Regions from separate parts of the Homo sapiens genome. Here region 2 is linked to region 1. The links come from fine-mapping of genetic effects on gene expression. Tissue or cell type: cerebellar hemisphere. Region 1 holds a variant in brackets; the other region holds the start of a gene. All regions are shown on one strand. Distances are from middle to middle.

What was found. PIP is the estimated chance that this variant, and not a neighbour inherited with it, causes the effect. A credible set is the group of variants that fine-mapping cannot tell apart.
Region 2: GLRA1 starts here. The variant in region 1 is the best candidate, but not a certain one, in a credible set for the expression of GLRA1 in cerebellar hemisphere (GTEx, PIP 0.53).

Annotation. Positions count from the first base shown.
Region 1 is chr5:152,370,229-152,381,098 of GRCh38, reverse strand. It overlaps LOC105378237 (a long non-coding RNA gene), which reads right to left. Exons shown (of 3, transcript XR_944433.2): 2 at 5,886-5,996; 3 at 2,658-2,950. Among named protein-coding and RNA genes, the nearest start is that of NMUR2, 30 kb to the left of the region's middle. RefSeq lists enhancers at 881-1,050, 3,940-4,109, 10,760-10,870 and a cis regulatory region at 4,024. The variant G/C (reference allele first, on the strand shown) is at 4,024.
Region 2 is chr5:151,922,270-151,929,963 of GRCh38, reverse strand. GLRA1 (glycine receptor alpha 1) reads left to right here and starts at 5,113. Exons shown (of 9, transcript NM_000171.4): 1 at 5,113-5,470. The coding sequence starts at 5,415. RefSeq lists a silencer at 4,621-4,833.

The sequences.
Region 1 (10,870 bases):
GGAAAGACAGTTAGATGTTCTTAGAAGGGAATTTGATTTTTTGTTGAAAAAGAATTTCCAAACTAGAAAGGATCTTAAAGAGTGTACTCAAACTGCCTTTCTTCAATGACAGAGGAATCAAGATTCATTACTTGCATAATGTGCCTGAGGTGTTGCAGCTGCTCAACTCGGAGAAAGAACTGACACCTATGTCTGCTGACTACCAGTGCAAGACACATTCTTGTTTCCCTGCCCGTAAAATAGAAATCCGATTAACCAAGAATATTACCTTAATAACTTTTCAAATGAGAAATAATTTAAAACTCTTTAGTTGTAAAATTTATATCTATGTTAGGCAGCTTACAACATGGACCCCTGCAATGATCCCCACTTTTTGGTATTCACATTCTTGTGTAATTTCTCTCCTTGAGTGTGGGCTGGACTTACTGACTTTTTACTAACGAATAGAATATAGCAGAAAGGACAGGACGTTCTTTTTATTTTGTTTTATTTTTAGACCGGGTCTCACTGTGTTGCCAGGCTGCAGTGCAGTGGCGCCATCTCAGCTCACTGCAACTTCCACCTCTCGGGTTCACATGATTCTCCTGCCTCAGCCTCCTGAGTAGCTGGGATTATAGGTGCCACCACCACACCCGGCTAATTTTTGTATTTTTAGTAGAGACGAGGTTTCATCATGTTGGCCAGACTGGTCTCGAACTCTTGACCTCGTGATCTGCCCACCTCGGCCTCCCAAAGTGCTGGGGTTACAGGCGTGAGCCACTGCTGCTGCCCAGCCAGGATGTCACTTTCAAGAATAGGTTACAAAAAGACTGACCTCTCTCCTGGGCATACCTCCCTCTCTCTCTCTCCCTCTCTTGGACAGTTCTCTCTGAAGAAACCAGCTGCCAGTGAGCTTGGAAGCAGACCCTTCCCTGGTTAAGCCATAAGGTGTCTGCAGCCCCAGTGGACACCTTCACCATAGTCTCGTGAAAGACCCAGAGCCAGGGACACCCAGCTAAGCTACACTTGGATTTCTTACCCACAGAAAGTGTGAAATAATAATTTTTTAAAAAGTGTTGTCTTAAGCCACTGGGTATTGGTGTAATTTAAGTTACTGTTGTTACAGTAAAAATTTAATAATCTTGAAATTATTTAGGAGGAGGAGAAGAACTCAAGTATTGGCATATCTTTACAACACAGAAACTTTCAAGCCACCTTGGGACTGTTTTATTTTGAATTAAATTAAATTAAATGTAATGGGACCATTGTAGAATTAACTTTAATGTCATTCAGCCTGGACCTACTCTGGGCATATTTGCTGCTGATAAAACCACTTTAATTTGTATGTCTTTAATTCTCTGGGCATTGCAGAAAAAGAAAAAATAGAAAAATAAAATAAAACCTGATTGCCCATAATTTCTACTGTGTTTACGTATGCACCGGAAGAAACTGTAATTTACAAACTGAAAGAAATAGTACAACATCTCGTTGGTACTATTTTTACTTGCATCTAATGGATGTGCAAAGGAAATGCTGAAGACTCCCTAGAGATATTGAAAAAATACTTTACTACCCCCAAGTGGACATGTAAGTTATATTTACTGAAATAAAATGTAAAATTGGCATTGTCATCCAAAAAACAGGTATGAAATGATTATATAACAGACTCAGAATCTCAGAGCTGGTAAGAATTTTAAAATTTAGAACTTTAAAATATAGAACCTTAGAACTGGTGAGATATTTGAATTCCCTCTACAATCTATCTTATGCTTGTACATTTTTTCATTATGTAAGTTTGCTGGCTACCAAGGCAGCTCATTCCCTTTTCAGACAGCTTAATTTGAGTTGTTCTCATAAGTCTTTATTTCTCTTGAAAACTGCCTGCAAACCATGCAAGATCTTTCATGTCATCTATACCATTCTTAATGTTATCAGTGACTTACAAAAAGGGAGATACTATAAATTTCCAGACAGCATATTTAAATAACACAGAAAACTGAATTTTAATCTTTCTTGAGTGTAACCCTAAAAAGTCCTCCAACTATTGTTTCCTTATGTAAATGATTCAATCAATTCTGACACACAAAGGGCCCCTACAATCTTTCAGACTCTCCAGGTTTTCTAGATCTGGTTTATGAGTCATGTCTCAGAGAGTTCAGTTTGCCAAAATTTCAAACTAAAAGTCTAGGCCAACTCCTTATCTGTGTCAGAGGTTTCCAAAGATGATAGGTAGCATGATTTAACTCAAGCGTAGTTATCAGCCTGGAGTTTTACTCCAGCCTTTTCTACTGAGTAGGGCAGAACTACGCAACAGCTTAAGGACTCCTTTTGCTTCTCCAGCTAACGTTGAGACCATTGTTTCTCAAATTATGACCAGTGGACTACCTGTTTGTGAACCAAGTGGGAGTTTAAAAAAAAAAATGCAGGCTCCTGAGTCTGCTGAAATGCAATCTTTCAGCTGGAGTACTGTGATGGGAATTAGTATTAATCAAAAATCTCCAGTAAATTCTTATGCCCACTAAAAATCGAGTGGGTTGTTTCCAGAAGATTGGTCTCACTATGAGTTCTGTGAAAAACAAAGGATATTGAATTCAGATAAGTTAGGGAACGTCAGCAAACTGTAGGGAAAGAATGTACTACAGCATCCTGTTACTGTGCCTGTTACTTTTGCTCATGCCTTTTAATTGTCTGTCAGCAGTAAAGAAGGAAGAATTACATATCATATTATTCAGAGTTTTGGGATAGTGACTGGACTGTAATGATGATTCGATGCAATCACTGTGTCTTAAAAGCATAAACAAGGCTGCAGTGCTCTCCCACACATCCATTTACACAGCTGTTTCTGTGCAGATGTGGCTGATTGTTGTCTCTTCTTTCTCTCTCCTCCAGATACATAAGTTAGACCAAGGCCGGTGAAGACCTCTGCCATATTGCTCTCCATCCATTTACTCAGCTTCCTTTATCCATGAGCCTGGCATGAGATAGTAATATTTAAAGACTTAAACCAGGGGAAGATAGGAAGCCCCTTGTATGCCTTAAATTACATATTATGTGTTTTAACATTATCATTTACAGGGGAGCCCTATATTGGGGCATTGGCTACTTGAAGAACTATTAATAAAATGGTTTTTCCTTATAGATTTTACTTATCCAGAATTCTATGAAAAGAAGAGGTGTCTTCCAGGCCAGGATCTAGGCATTTTTAGAATTCAGAACTAAATTCCCCTCCTAATTGCCCTAAGATCTTATCTTTAAGCCTACAAAGAACACTTTACCTTCCTTTTAGAGACTCATAATTCATAGTGGCACATGTAAGCCTCCATGAGTCCTACACATTGAATAAATTTGCTTACCCTCACTTAATTTGAAATTTTCCAATCCTGTGTGCTCATGGTACCCCACTGAGGTAATGTCACTGAGGGCACATTTTGGGAAATGTTAGTGTAAATGAGGAAGTTAGCAAACATTTTCTATAGAGAGCTAGATAGCAAATATCTTAGGCTTTTACAGCCATATACTTTCTGTCACAACTACTCAGTGCTGACATTGTAGCACAAAAGCAGGCATTGACAATATGAAAATAAATAAGCATGGCTGTGTTCCAATAAAGCTTTATTTACAAAAACAGATGGCAGATTTACAAAACTTTATTTACAAAAACAGATTGGCCTGTGGGTTGTAGTTTGCTGACCCCTGGTATACACTAAAAACAGTCAAGTGATTTTTTGTTTGCTTTTTGTTTTTCTGTCGTTTTTTCTTCTAGGTCCACAACCTGATTCCATTTTTAAAGCCTTATTTCTTTGATGAGGAAAAATATTGGAGGTAAAAAACAGAATTGATTCATCTTTTTAATATAAAACAATTAGACTTTGTTATAGCTTTCATTTTCATTATTTTGATTACCCCCACCTTTTCCATCTGCAACAAGGCATTCTTGCCAGGACAACTGGCTTTCGGGAAATTAAAATTCAGAAGCACTAGGCAGAAACCCAAAATGGGAGAAAACAATGTCAGGGCCAAGAAAGGATAGGCAAGACAGAGAGA[G/C]AGAGATCCTAAAACGGACGAGAGAGCCTTTGCCCCAGTGTGTTTCTACTGTTTTTCCCCCGTGCCTCCCTCTAGAGCCTTTACTTTAAGCAAAGTGGCCTGGCTGGTCTCCCCAGAGTCCATTTTGTCCCCATCCATACAGAAGGTCTTTCTTTTCCCTGAGCATAGGGAGAAGTTAATGGAATGGAGAGAGGAGAATAATAAGTCAATTTCTTCCTATCTTTTGTGTGTTGTTTTAAAAATAATATGTTAATACTTTAAGTAATTATTCATTTCACGTTATAATCCTTATAATCCCCTCTCATGTATATGCTTCTTTTTTACTAGCAAAATTGCATCAATCTATATTCTCTGTCTCCACATCCTCATATTCCACCTTTTCTTGGAATCACTTCACTCAGGCTTTTCTTTCCATTGCTCCAGGAAAGCCACTCTCATCAAGCTCACCAATGACCTCCAGGTATCAATTATTTATCCTCTTCTTGTTCAACTTCTCAGCAGCATTGATTTTTTAAAATTCTCCTCTCTATTGAAACACTTTCTTTCTTGACTCCCTGAATACCACTCTCACCTTCTGACCACTTCTCAAACATTTCTGCACTACACTCTAATCCAAGCTACCTTCTTCTCCCACCTGGTCTATCAAATAGCTTCTTAACCGGTTTTTATTTTTTTATTCCACTCTTGCTGCCCCCACTTCTGACTGTTCTCCACGGAGGAGACCCTCCTGGTTGATTTGATGCTTTAAACCACCTTAATCTGTTCAAAATCTACTAATGGCATGCCAACATATTTAAAACAAAACCCAGACCCACTGCATGGCCTACAATGTAAAATGTGGTCCCAACAACCCTCTGCCTTCTCCCCCATCCCACTGCATATGAGTTACACTAGGCTACTTCTGGCTTATTTATCACGGCCTTTGCACTTGCTGTTGAGCTTACCTGTAACATATTTCTCCCAGGTGCATGGATGGCTTGCATCTTCATTTCATGCAGAGCTCTATTCAAGTATCACATCTCAGAAAAACTTTCTCTGACCAACATTTTTAAATTAACCACTCCTTCTTCACTGTCTGTCCCATTTATCCTACTTTAATTTTATTCAAAGTGCTTATCACTTCTAGTTATATATTTATCTGTTTGTTGTTCTGTGTGCCTCTGTAGAAAATAAGTGCCCCCAGGGCTCTTCACTACTGTATCCCCAGCATTTAGAATATTTCCTAGAACACAGTTGGTTGGTAGATATTTGTTGAATAGGCTTGGTACTGGGACATAAAACATTCGTAAGGTATAATACTTTGTATTAAGGCTATATAAATCTAATCCAAGATGTGGAATAGGAAATGGTGGAGAGTCATGCATACAACTACAAAGATGCAAGACAGAGTATCTGGTATCCAAAAAGGAATAAGTAAAATTTTATGAGAGCATGGTTCACTTCAAAATTACCCCTATGACTAGGGGAAGGGTTTATGGAGAGGATGACATTAAGCTTAGAACATTAGATAATGCATAGTATTTTGTCTGAGAAAGGAAGAAGGAACAGCATGAAAAATGCTAGAAAGGTAAGAAAGCATCTTCATTCATTTATTTAATGAATATTTATTGATTTTCTATTATGAGCTTGCTAGGCATTGTTTTAAATGTTGGAGATTCAGGAATTGAATACGAGAAGAATACAAATTACAACCTCAAAAAGTTTACATTCTAAGGAGAATAGTCAATAAAAAATAAGCAAAGAAATATACAAATAATTTTAGATTATGACATAAGCAGGATTATAATAACATATTGGAGGATGGGATAAAGAGCTCAAAAGAAATGGGGAGAAAATTAAGGCACTGCTTGGAAATGACTTACCACAGAAGTTCTCTAAGGGAAATTCTAGAACCAAAGGATGAAAAGGAGCCAGCTCTGTGCAGAGGTGAAGGAACATCATACCAAGATGAGAGAACAGCAAGGTCGCAGGCCCTGGAGTGGGGAAGTGAACAGTCATTCACATGTTCACTGACTATTTCTGGTTTCCTACCTCACAGGCACAATGTAGGATTGCTCTTCCTTGTTCTTGAATTAGATGGGGACACATGACTAGTTCTAGCCTCTAAATTATAAGTAGAAGTAATGAGTATCAACTGCTGATACAAGATCTGCCAGAGGATGTTTTCCCTGTAGCATAACAACTAACAATTGTTGAGATCAATGGCAGCTTCATCATCCTAGATCCCTGAGTGACTGCAATAAACAGAGCCCCTCTGTGATCCATAGTAAACAGACAATAACATTTGGGTACTCTGTGTGTGTGTGTGAACACATGTTTTCTTTCTCTTGGGTAGTTATCTAGGAATGAAATTGCTGGGTCATATGGTAACTCTATGTTTAAGAAACTGCTGAGACGTTTTCCAAGTAGCTATATCATTTAACTCCCACCAGCAATGTATAAAGTTTCCAATTTCTCCACATCCTCACCAATACTTGTTATGTCTTTATTTTTATTTGTTATTATAGCCATTCTAGTGGGTGTGAAGTGGTACATCATTGTGGTTTTGACTTGCATTTCCATAATTAACACACAATTTTGTTTATATCGGGCAAAAATAGGTGCAAGGAGACCACTGAAGAGGCCCTTTCAAAAGATCAGATGACAGATGACAGACAAGGTGGTAACAGTGAAGAGGGTATGAACTTCCACACAGCACAAAGGATTTGCCTAAACATTGTGCTAAGAGACGTGACCAAACTTTAGCCTGGCTGCCACCTGCACTATACCATGTCCCTTAAGGTGACACACAATGCCACCAAACCATGAAATATACATTGTTCCAACCCACAATCCCAAACCATTTTCAGTAATTCTTCACGTACTGCCCTCTGTAATTTTCTATTGCTCCACAGCTCCCTTAATCTTTTTTTTTATTTCCTCCTTTTTACTTCCCCAGAGCTCCTTTGTGTTTTCTCTGTTTTCCCTTTAAAACCCTCTGTCACATTTGTCTTAGCTGGAGTTGAGCTCAGTGTATACTGTGTCTCTCTCCCCTGTTGAAGTAGTCTGAATAAAATCTGTCTTGCCAACTTTAATAAATGTCTGGTATTGGTCCCTTTTGACAAGGGAAAGAAGATATATTTCAGAAACAGAATGAAATGTCATGCTGAAGAATTATATGCAGGGAATGAAAGTAAGTAACAAATCAAGGTTGACTTCTGGGTTCTTGGGTTGAGTAGCTGAGTGGGTTGAGGGTGTCAATTACTAAGATGAGAAAGTGTTGAAGAGGAACCTGAAAGAAGAAAAAAGAGAAATTTTAAAACATTGTTTTGAAAACGTGAATTTGACATACCTATAATATATCCAATTAGAGATAGTAAAGAGTCAGCTGGATATATAAATCTGGAACACAGGAAAGAATATAGTATTGTAGTTATAAATTTCAGGGCCATCTTTGTCCATTTGGCATTTAAAGTCATGGAGTGAATGAGGTCACTGTATGTGAATGTGTAGACAGAGAAGATCATCCAGAACCAACAGGTAGAGAAGTCTAAGAACTAAAGGTAGGATTGAGAAGAAAGAAACAGTAAACAAAAAGACAAAAAAGGATGATTAAAGAGGCAAGAGGAATATTAAGAGAGAGTGGTATTCTAGAAAACAAAAGAACAGCTTCAAGAAGAGGTCAATAGTAAATGGTGAAAAAAAGAGTTCAAAGAAATGTCCACCTGTTTTGGCAACAGGATTATCATGCACAGAAAAGGTTTTGGAGAAGTAATGATGGTAAAAGCAAGATTGGAGTAGATTAAAGAAACAGTGGAAGACAGGGAACCTGATGCAATGAATACAGAACACTCCTTTAAGATTATTTACTATGAAGAAGAAGAGAGAAATATGATGATGAAGAAGTAGAATGTGGATCATGGGAGGGCAATGTAAAATGTGAGAACCCACAGTGTATTCATATGCAATTGGAATAATTTGGTTAAAAGGAAGAAACTGTGCTGTCAGAGGTAGGGGAAACCACAGAAGTGAATCATTGAGGAAGTTACAGTCTCTGGCACCGAGAGCACAGGAGACTGACCCTTGGTAGAAGCAATGAAAAGATGGAAAACATAAATATAGATCCAAACAAAGGTATGTTCTGGATTTGATAATGTGTATATGAGAAAGTCCCCCCTGCTTCTATTTGTTCAGGCAAGGTTATCAGATATGGGGACAGGGATGGTAAGACACCTGAGGGAGTAAAGTATGAAAGAATTGTCCTGACAAGGAGAAACCATGCTTACCAGGATGAAAATTCTAGGCAGTGTGAGGTCCATTTGAAGTCTGACATCTTGAAATTAAGCTGCAATGGGTCACCCTACCATATGTGTGTTTTTCATTTGGGTACAAATGCTCATCTGTTTAAATTCAGGTTCAGACACGGTAAATAATTAAATTCAATCTGAATTGGGTTTAGCCATACCAACATATCAGAGGGCTAGAAAGGCAATGTCATTGAGGATGTTTACAAGGGAATGATTACCATGATGAACAAGAGCGTCTAAACTGGGTAAAAAGGCAAATGTAGGTAAAAGAATAGTCGGGTAAAATGATGAGGTCAATGCATTGGAGACCCAGTTGGGGTGAAAATATTGTTGTAGAGAGAGGACTAGATGAATCAAGACAAAGAGCACAGAAGCTGGCAATCAGGGAGTAAGATATTTGAAATAAAGATTTCAGAGGTGACACAGTTACTGATGATACAGGTTGAGCACTCCTTTATCGAAATGTTTGGGGCCAGAAGTGTTTTAGATTTCAAATTTTTTTCAGATTTTGGAATATGTGCACTGTACTGATTGAGTATCCCAAATCTGAAAATCTGAAATCCGAAATGCTACAATAAGCATTTCCTTTGAACATCATGTTAGCACTCAAAAAGTTTTAAATTTTGGAGCGTTTCAGATTTATTTTGTGAATTTCGGATGCTCAACCTGTAATAAGGTCTAGGCAATAGTGGGGAGGAAGGCAAGAACACTGGCAGAGATCAATGTGATCCCAGTGGCTCATCTTCTAAGAAGTTAAAGTTATCAGACATTCTGATGGGCACACAGCTTCTGCAAAATTTTTACATTGTATTTAAATTAAGAAGTACATGTTCTTAGCCTACAAAGCCTCAACATTAAAGGCCAAACCCTTGGGTTGCAGATATTTTTAAAAATCTGAAATAAGTTGTCACAACAATATTGAAGTCTGTGAGAATGGTGCTGTGTGAAATTGTCACTGCATAGCTTGTGTAGCTGCATACAGCAGCCCTGTAACCAATGGTTAACCTCATCAACAGTCTAGTCCAGTTATTCTCATCTGGGGATGATCTTCTCTCTCAGGGAAGACCCCAGGGGGATATTTGGCAATGTCTGAAAACATTTTTATTCGTCATAACTTGTGGAGACTGTTATCTAGTGGGAGAACTGATATCTAGTGGACAGAGCAAAGACACTGCTAAACATCCTACAATGGACGTGACAGCCCCGCTGTCTCCTGCAATAATATCTGGCCCAAAATGTCAAAGTTAAACTCTAGTCCTAGAATCTGAGCATTCCCTTTCCTTTCCTCTTACCAGGAAGACATATACATTCTTCAGAAGCAAAATACCACAGTGATTTCTGTATCACTATGGAGCATAGAGTTTGTGCAGACTCCTATCTCTGACCCATTCCCTAATCTCTCCTTTTCCTCCATCCACCTATGTTTCTGATGGCAACTTGTTTTCATCCCTAGCTGAACATAGAGAAAGCAGCTGTAATCACTAAGTCATTCAATTAATTACAGGATGCATAAAATTAAGGTAATTAAGAAGGAAGAATTAGGTCAATCCTTCTCAATTGGCTATACTCAACTTATCTTGTAAGCTGTTAGTCTAATTGTGAAGCCTCCTTGGGCTCTGAAAAATGCCCCAGTGGTATTTCTTGCCTTCTCTGACATTAGCAATTTGCCAAAGGGCTTGCAATGAGAGTTCTATGTTAAGTATCTAATACCTGCAAGGCCAGTTCTGAACACAGTCCTGGCCCTCCTAATCCACAGGTTTTGTACCAACCATGCGTTGAAAATATTCAAATTTTTTTAAAAACTTAAAAATAATAATAAAGCAATAAAAATAATACAAATAAAACATTACAGTGTAACAACTATTTACATAACATTTACATTGTATTAGAAGTATTGTAGAGATTATTTAAAGTATACGGGAGGATGTGCATAGGTTATATCCAAATTACCACAAATGTGATGGCTTAAAACAACAAAAATGTATTATCTTATAGTCCTAGAATAAGAGGACTTGAGAAGTTCAAGATCAAGGTATTGGCTGGGCCCTGCTCCCTCCAAGGCGTCTAGGGGAGAATCCTTTCTTACTTACATCTTCCAGCTCCTGTTGCTCTAGGCATTTGACTTTCTCCAACAGAACTCTACCCTCTGCCTCCATCTTCACATGCCCTTCTCTTCTTCCTGTATCTGCTCCTCTTTTTCTTTTATGAGGACACTTGCCATTGGATTTAGGGACTACCCAGATGATCCAATATGATCTCATCTTGATATCATTAACTTAATAGCATCTGCCAAGACCCCAAGTAAGGTCATATTCAATATTGCTGAGTGTTAACATTTGGATATTCCTTTTATCTTTTTTTTTTTTTTCTTTTTTGAGAGAGAGTCTTACTCTGCTTCCCAGGCTGGAATTCAATGGCACAATCTCAGCTCACTGCAAACTCCACCTCCGGGGTCCAAACGATTCTCATGCCTCAGCCTCCTGAGTAGCAGGGACTGCAGGCATGCACCACCATGCACAGCTAATTTTTATATTTTTAGTAGAGACAGGGTTTCACTACGT
Region 2 (7,694 bases), 450 kb after region 1:
AAATACAAAATTAGCCAGGTGTGGCAGTGCACACCTATAATCCCAGCTACTCGGAGGCAGGAGAATCGCTTGAACCCAGTAGGTGGAGGTTGCAGTGAGCAGAGACCACGCCACTGCACTCCAGCCTGGGAAACAAGAGCAAAACTCCATCTCAAAAAGAAACAGAGAGAAAGAGAGAAAAACTGACTGAATAAACATGAAATAACATGTAAGGACAGATGAGAAGAAAGTAGAAAAAAGAGGCAGAGATAGTTTGAGAGAAAGATGGAAATGAGGCACAGGGAGATCGCTAAAATTTTCTCACAAACAGTAAGCTGTTAGAGCACCAAGTACAAGTATAGACTTGGCTACAAAAGAAAATTGGGGAGTCTCTGGTCTCTGAGCAGGTCAGCTTTGATATGAAGCATTTTTCATCACAGATCTTAGCTCCACTTCTGTTATTTTAGGTCTCACAGAAAAAAGGGTAGGGAACCATGACCTGAAAGATAGGAGTCCTCCAATCTAGATTCAGTTTTGTTGTGGTATCTTAAGCCAGTCGTTCCCCCTTTCCTGGACCTTGAATAGCTAGTGAAATGGGAGGAAAGGTCTCTTAGTATTTTATGCATCTATTCTTTACAACTAAAATTCTGGTGTCACTGAGATCCCCCAAGTAGTTCTGGGGTCCCTTCTTTAAAGGATAAAGAACAGGTAATTGCTTTGTAAAAAAAAAAAAAAAAAAAAGTAACAAGAGCATTCTGGATTAGGATTAGAAGGATTAGAAAGAGCTGGCAGCAAGCCTCTAATTCTTTGGAGAAAAGACTCTTCCACAGTCCCATTTTCAGGCCTTTATTCATCATACTACAGCACAATTAGGCAAGCTGCTCAGTTGTTCCAAATATCTATCTGTCTTTGCAAAGTATCTTTCAGGCCTGTCAAAGCAGTGTTGAAACATACAGCACTCTCCTCTGTGAATGCCATTATGGACAGAGGCTTGGCATTATATTAATTACATTAGCTGGCTCAGGACAACATAATCTCAGCTGATTAACAACATTCCTTACTCTCTTTCCCCTGTATTTGTGTCCTCTGCCTGAATCTTTTTGTTCTTTTGTTTATTCACTCATTCATCCTTGCAATAAATATTTACTGAGCCCTTAGTATCTGATACTGATATGTGATATATATCAGTATATATTAGTAATAAAAACGGGTAAACTCTCTTCCCTCATAGATTTTCCTGACTTTCTTTCTGCATTTCCTTTATCTTAATTGAAACAAACAAAAAAATAGTTGAAACACCCTTTAGCTATAATTAGGGTGCTTGTGTTCTTGTCCCAGCTGCGCTATGAGTCTAAGGGGTAAGTCTATTAACCTCTCTGTATATAATTTTCCTCTTCTGTACTCGAAATGTTGAACAAGACTATCTTAAAGAATTTCTCACATGGACTTTTTCAGTAGCTCCTAACTAGTCTCCCTGCTTTCATTTTGCTCCTGCCATCCCAGAAATTTTATTCTTGGAGGTAGTACCTGCTCTAGTCCCCAACTTCCTCTCTAATCTCATCTTCTATCACTGTTCCCTGCACTCACTCTGTCCAGGCACACTGGTCTCCATGCTGTTTCTTGTACACTCCAAACATACTCCCCTCTCCGGGCTTTTACATTTGCTTTTCCCACTGCTTAGAAAGCTTTCCATACCTGCCCCCAAGGTTCACATGACTCATTCCTTCACTTCCTTCAATTACATAAATGCCTTTTCAGGAGCCATTCTCTGATATGATCACCTTACATAAAATAGCACCTCCATGCCACTCTCTGCCCTGCCTTTTTCTTTTTAGTTCTTATGACTGCCTAACTCATCATATATTTCCTTGTTTGTCTTGTTTTCCTCCAATAGAAGATGCATACCTTTAGAATAGGGCTCTTGGCTTGTTTTGTTCCCTGCTATATCCCCAGTGCCAAGAATAGTACCAGATACACAGTAAATGCTCAATAAATGTTTGTTGAATGAATAAAATAATGAATCTTTTCTAGTAATAAAATAAGTCTCACCGTGTGTCAAAATTTATTCATACTTAGTAGGGCTCAAATCTGGCTACTAGGATCTATAAGAGACCAGTCAAGTATTAGAACTACGCTGGAGTCAGACTACACAGAAAAGTTACCAATAGAAATGAGCCATTAGCTGAAGCCAATCCATTCCATTCCTTGAAGATTTTTGTTTCATAGCATGGTAAGCTACAATAAGGTTAGACTTAAATATTTATTCTATGCAGTTTCTTGCAGTGAGAAAAGTGGCATTACTACCCTCATTTCACTTAGGCCTGGAGTTTAGTCATTTATCCAACATAACCAACCTTTTTGAAGCAGAGATAAAATAAGGACATAAATCCCTGACGGCCAAGCCCACAGTTGTTTATTTTCAATAGTGACCTAAACAAGAACAAAAAGATCTGTACAGGCATAAATATGTGATATGTAGGGTAAAAAGTGTAGATTAACATGAGGGACTCTTCCCACTGAACTTCTGAAGCAACTGCATGTTCCAAAAGTTTATCTTATATACTGTTTATTTTATACACTATCAGTATATACTGTGTTGTTTATCTTATATACTGTCATATCCCCAATACTTGGCACATGCTCATTTCATGTGTACTGATTAAATGAAAGTATCAGCCTCATAGTAAACAGAGGCCTATTAACAAACAGGTGCCCCTCCACCACCCCAGGTAATAATTACTCTTACCTCCTGCACAGGCCACAGCCTTGGAGCCACTCACACTCATGAACAGCAACACACACTCAGCACCCCTTGAAGGAAAAGAAAAACAAATTTCCACATACTGCATCACACCTGGCTATGCAGGTATTTCCTAGTCAGATGAGGAACCAGGACAAAATTGCCAGCTTACGGCTTGTTTCAGTACTTCTAGGACCACCACAAAGACACACATAGATACATACACATCTATGTGTATGTAGAGAAAGACCCATTTACAAATACAAACGTACAAATACACATATGCATATCAAAATCACTTCAGAATTAGGCACGATACAAATCATAAATAAATTTGTATACACAGTAACCTACAAGCTGGTTTTGCCCTAGCATACTCACAAATGTACACAAACACATACGCAAAGATAATACTTACCTCAAGGTTTGACTGTGAAAAGTAAATGAGATTATGTGAATTCACAGTAATTTCTGACACATAGAAACCATGCTAATAAAGGTTAGCTCTTGATTACATATATAAAAATACATATATTATACATTATATTTAAATTTGTATCCAACTCATATTAATATACACCTTCAAAACAAAATTTCCTTTTCAGTCACTATGCAGAATATCATGGAAATTCTAGACTGTGGGAGCCAATAACAGAACCGGTAGTGTGGGGTATGCTATTGTAGTACAGGGGGAGGGGAGGGGAAATCCTACTGGTAAGAGGCTAGTAAACAAGACTTTTCAGATCCTTTCTGCTTGGGAGAAGGCCTAGCCTTGGAGGGAGCTGAGCTGATGAGTATTCTTGGGAGATCAGCCAAAGGAGTTTCTAACGTTATTGGGTAAGGAGGAGGGGTTGTCCTCTCTCAGTAGCCTTGGGCGAGAGAGTCCCCAGAGTCCCAATGAGTTCAAATCAGCCAGAAAATCCTTTAAAGTATTTATCCTATAGTCCCACAGCTTGGGGAAAATCTGATTAACTCCATCTCACCAGATGGGCTTTACAGTGAAATGTATAGCTGGTTTCTAAGATTCAAATAAGGTGGGAAAACAGAGGAAGAAATAACGAAATGTGAGTCATAACACATCCCTGTGTGTACAACTTGGCTCTGCCATCAATTTGGAGCAAGCCACAGCTCTGTGAGGCTCAGTTTCCCCAGCATATAAAAGGCGAATAAAACTGTCTCCTGTCCAGTTGGAAGAAGGTGCTTTTATTCCCTCTCAAAAGGGTGCCAGCCACAACACCTCCCACTCAACGCTGGAAACTGCTCAAAGAATTTCTCTCGTATTTCCCTGCTGCGGTGACCCTGGAGGGGGTCTTTATCCACCAGACTTCTTTTTGGATATTCCTCCTTTCTTTCTAGGGCCAAATATTATAACTTCAGAGCTCTTTTAAAAAAAATCAGGGATCTGGTTCAACTCTTCCCTTTTAAAAGGATAAATTGAGCCCAGAGCACGTCTTAACAAGGAACCATGTGTTTTACTCACATACAACTGCATTCTTTAAAAATCAAGGCAACCTTTTGAGAGACCTAGAGAGATTAATTCCATATCCTCTCTCACCCCACCGCTTACACGGAAAGAAGCTTGGGGGTAGGAAGGGGATTGCGCAGATCTCGTCCAGCACTCTAAGCGTTAAATTCAACCCGGAGTCTAACAGGCTATTGGCCGAATACCGGGAGAAGATCTGGTTTTCGTAGCCGCGGGCCAATGAACACCTCGAGTGGGAGGGTTTGAAGATACTAAGGAGTTTTCCCCCTTTTTTTTTCCCCCTCAACCCCCTCCCATCGGCTATCACCCCTCCCATCCCCCACGCCTCCAGTTTGTTAAATTAATGCAGTAAGAAAGTCTGAAGATCTGAAGGAGTCTTGACCAAGGGAAGATGAGCGAGCTCAGAAAACCGAGATGCATCTGAGACATTGGGCTTCAGAGCCCCGCGGGGTAGCCAGGGACCCCGGTAGCCCCTGAAACTTGCCCTGGGCTCTCTGACGCCTGCGGCCCCGAGCAATGGGACACCTTTTCTGCAGTGATCACAACTTATTCGGCGGGGACCGGGAAACAGGAATAGCAAGGCGACAGCAGACCCGCACAGAGGCAGGAGAACGAGATTCCGAGACTGGATTGCGATGCGCCAGCCTGGCACACTCTCCGAGATTTAACTGAAGGCAGCGCCGTCAACCGCTTTCCCCTCGCCCCTAACCCCCTCAGGCCGGCCCAGAGCCATAAAGCTCTGTTCTCTTTACCCAAGATGCTCGCCCAATCCAACGGTCCGAGGCCAGCGCTCTGATCTCCACAGAAGATTTTTTTCCTTGCAGGGAGCTGGCCGTTTAAACAGAAAAACAGGGGTTTAAAAAAAAAAAAAAAAAAAAGGAAATATACCCACCCCCAAACGTGCCTCCCCAGCGCCGCAGGGAGCCAACAGACACGCTGGAGTTTAACAAACAGCAATACTCTTCGCGCTCCTGAAAAGCAGGTCTGGACGCTCTCCGTGGTGCTGAAACGCCTCGCAGCCGCCGCTGTCCGTGGTATCTACGACCCCCTCGCTCCAATTTCCCCTGGGGCTCTCCCTCCGCGCCCCTGTTCCCCGCCTCCCTTTAACATCTGGATTATTTTTTGCAATAGCGCTTTCTGGTTTTGTAAGTGCCAATTTGAAACATTTTTGCCCCCATAACTCGTGGACTACAAAGCACAAGGACCTGAAAAATGTACAGCTTCAATACTCTTCGACTCTACCTTTGGGAGACCATTGTATTCTTCAGGTATGCAATTTTCTACTGACCACATCGCTCTGATGGAAATGGGGGGAAAGAGTACGGAGGCTACCTCTGTCCGTGGTCCCATCATTTTGGGGAAGAGGGGTGCTGTATTCCACTGCAATCGGGTCCTTCCATCCCCCGTCTCCCTTCTCCCCCCTCCCACCCCCCGCCACCCACCCCACCCCCGCCCGCAGGGTGTCTGGCTTGTGCGTGGAGGTCTGAGACAGTCGCTGTTCTGGCAGCTGTTTGCCTGTTTCTTACGGTTTGTTTGTCCTTCTGTCTGCTACACCCCCCACTATTGGTCCCCAGCCCCACTGCATGTTGGCTTTCACTCGGCTGAGGACTTTAAAGGGAAGCTTTAGGAGTTACTCAGTTTAATTAGGACTGCATTCTCCCTAACCGCAGTGCCGAAAACCTCAGCTTTCCCGTCTGGGAGCCAAGTGACAACTAGCGGTGACGGGGAAGGTTGCACTCAAACTCGCTGGACACAGATCATTTCATTTTCTGTCCTTTTTTGCTGTTGTTTTCTTTTTCTGCGAAGAGGGAGGGGGATTACTAAGGCTGAGTGCTTGGAAACAATAGTATTATAACCTCAGTGTGTAAAGCCCTGAACTTGGGTGCAGAGTGGATCTATTTAGGAACATACTGGGAAACATTTCCCTTTTGAAACTTTGACTGCCTCTTTCCCCAACCCACCTTTCCAAACTCTGTTAGCTGCAGATCCTGAACTCATGAGCAATCTTCATTTGCTTTGTTTTTAAATTTATGCTTATATTTGACTCAACAGCTGAGTTATCCCATCCACTGTCTCTCAGGTTAAAATTTTCTGCCTGAAGACTTGTCTTTCTTATGTTAGTAGAAGTGAAAAGTGAAAAATCACCTCTTTAAGAAGCATTGAAATAGATAGTCCTTTAGTAAGTGTGTGAATCATACCATCTTCAGAGATGGCTATGATAAATTCCACTTATATGAATTGAAAAACATTATTCTTCTTCCATGACATGCAGGGATCATTAATCTTCCTCATTTTAGATGCCTGCCTCTCATATTTTACTGTGGCATTGGATTAACAGTCATTTGAAAAACCCACCCCAAATTGTTTTTAAAAATAAGTGGTCACCAAATATTACCCTCTCCCAACATAAAACAGCAAATAATTTTTGTTTTATTACAGTTCATAGGAATTGCTGATTTGACTAATCTGTTGGCTGGTTTATTAAATGACACCTCCCCTCAAATAGTAAGTTTCTGTATTTCAGTCTCTTTTCATGTCTCTTGAGATGAAGAAAAGGCATCCCCCCTTATCTGAGATACCCAATGCTAAAGCTTCTAATCTCCTGTTCAAACAATTATTTTGTAGGCCACAGAGTCCTGACCACAGATCAGACTGCAAATAGTCAGAGAGTCAGATAGAATGAAAAAGTACAACAATCCAGGGCCTTATGAAACGTATCAAAATGTGGCTACTTTATGGGGGAAAGGGCAGGAAGTATTCTATTTATAATATGAGATCCTTTATCCCCTGCATATTTAATAGAACTACAAATGTATGGAGGTTGGGTACTTTGTAACATTTGTATGCAAATTGATTCTCTGCTTGGTCTACAGGAGACAGAACTGAACCAGAGAGATTTAAGAGCAAATTAATAGAACCAAGCACATCTTTCTCCCCACACACACTCTCTCTTTTTTTCTTGATGAGCAGTATGCAATGCTTGATTTTCCTCTCCAGACATTGTCTTTCACAAAAGGGAGACTCAGTCTAAAAGGTCTGGATTGTAGTCATTTTGATAAGGTTATGAATCCACTGTGTTAATTCTTCAACTAAGCTGGTGGTGGCCTAACAGAAAACATCATTCTACATCTCTTTCCCCTACGTGCGTGAACGCACACATGAGCTACAATGGATGTGGGATATAATTCTACGTGTTTATAAGGAAAGAAGAGTTATAACTGTGGAGAGCTGGAAATGTGGGTGGCACCACTGCACTTTCAAAATATAGGAACGGCTACTTCATTAGGGGAGTAAATGTTGATTTTTGAAACACAATACAGACAATAATTGAACTCAGGAAATTCAGCAATTTTTCAGAGAGATTAAAAAAAGGTCACAAGGAAGCAAAGTGAGCAGATTGTATTTGTTCAATTGGTATTTTCATTTCTAAGTCACTCACTTTTAAAATTCCAGGTGAAAATACAGAAGCATTATAATGTGAGGACTTATTAG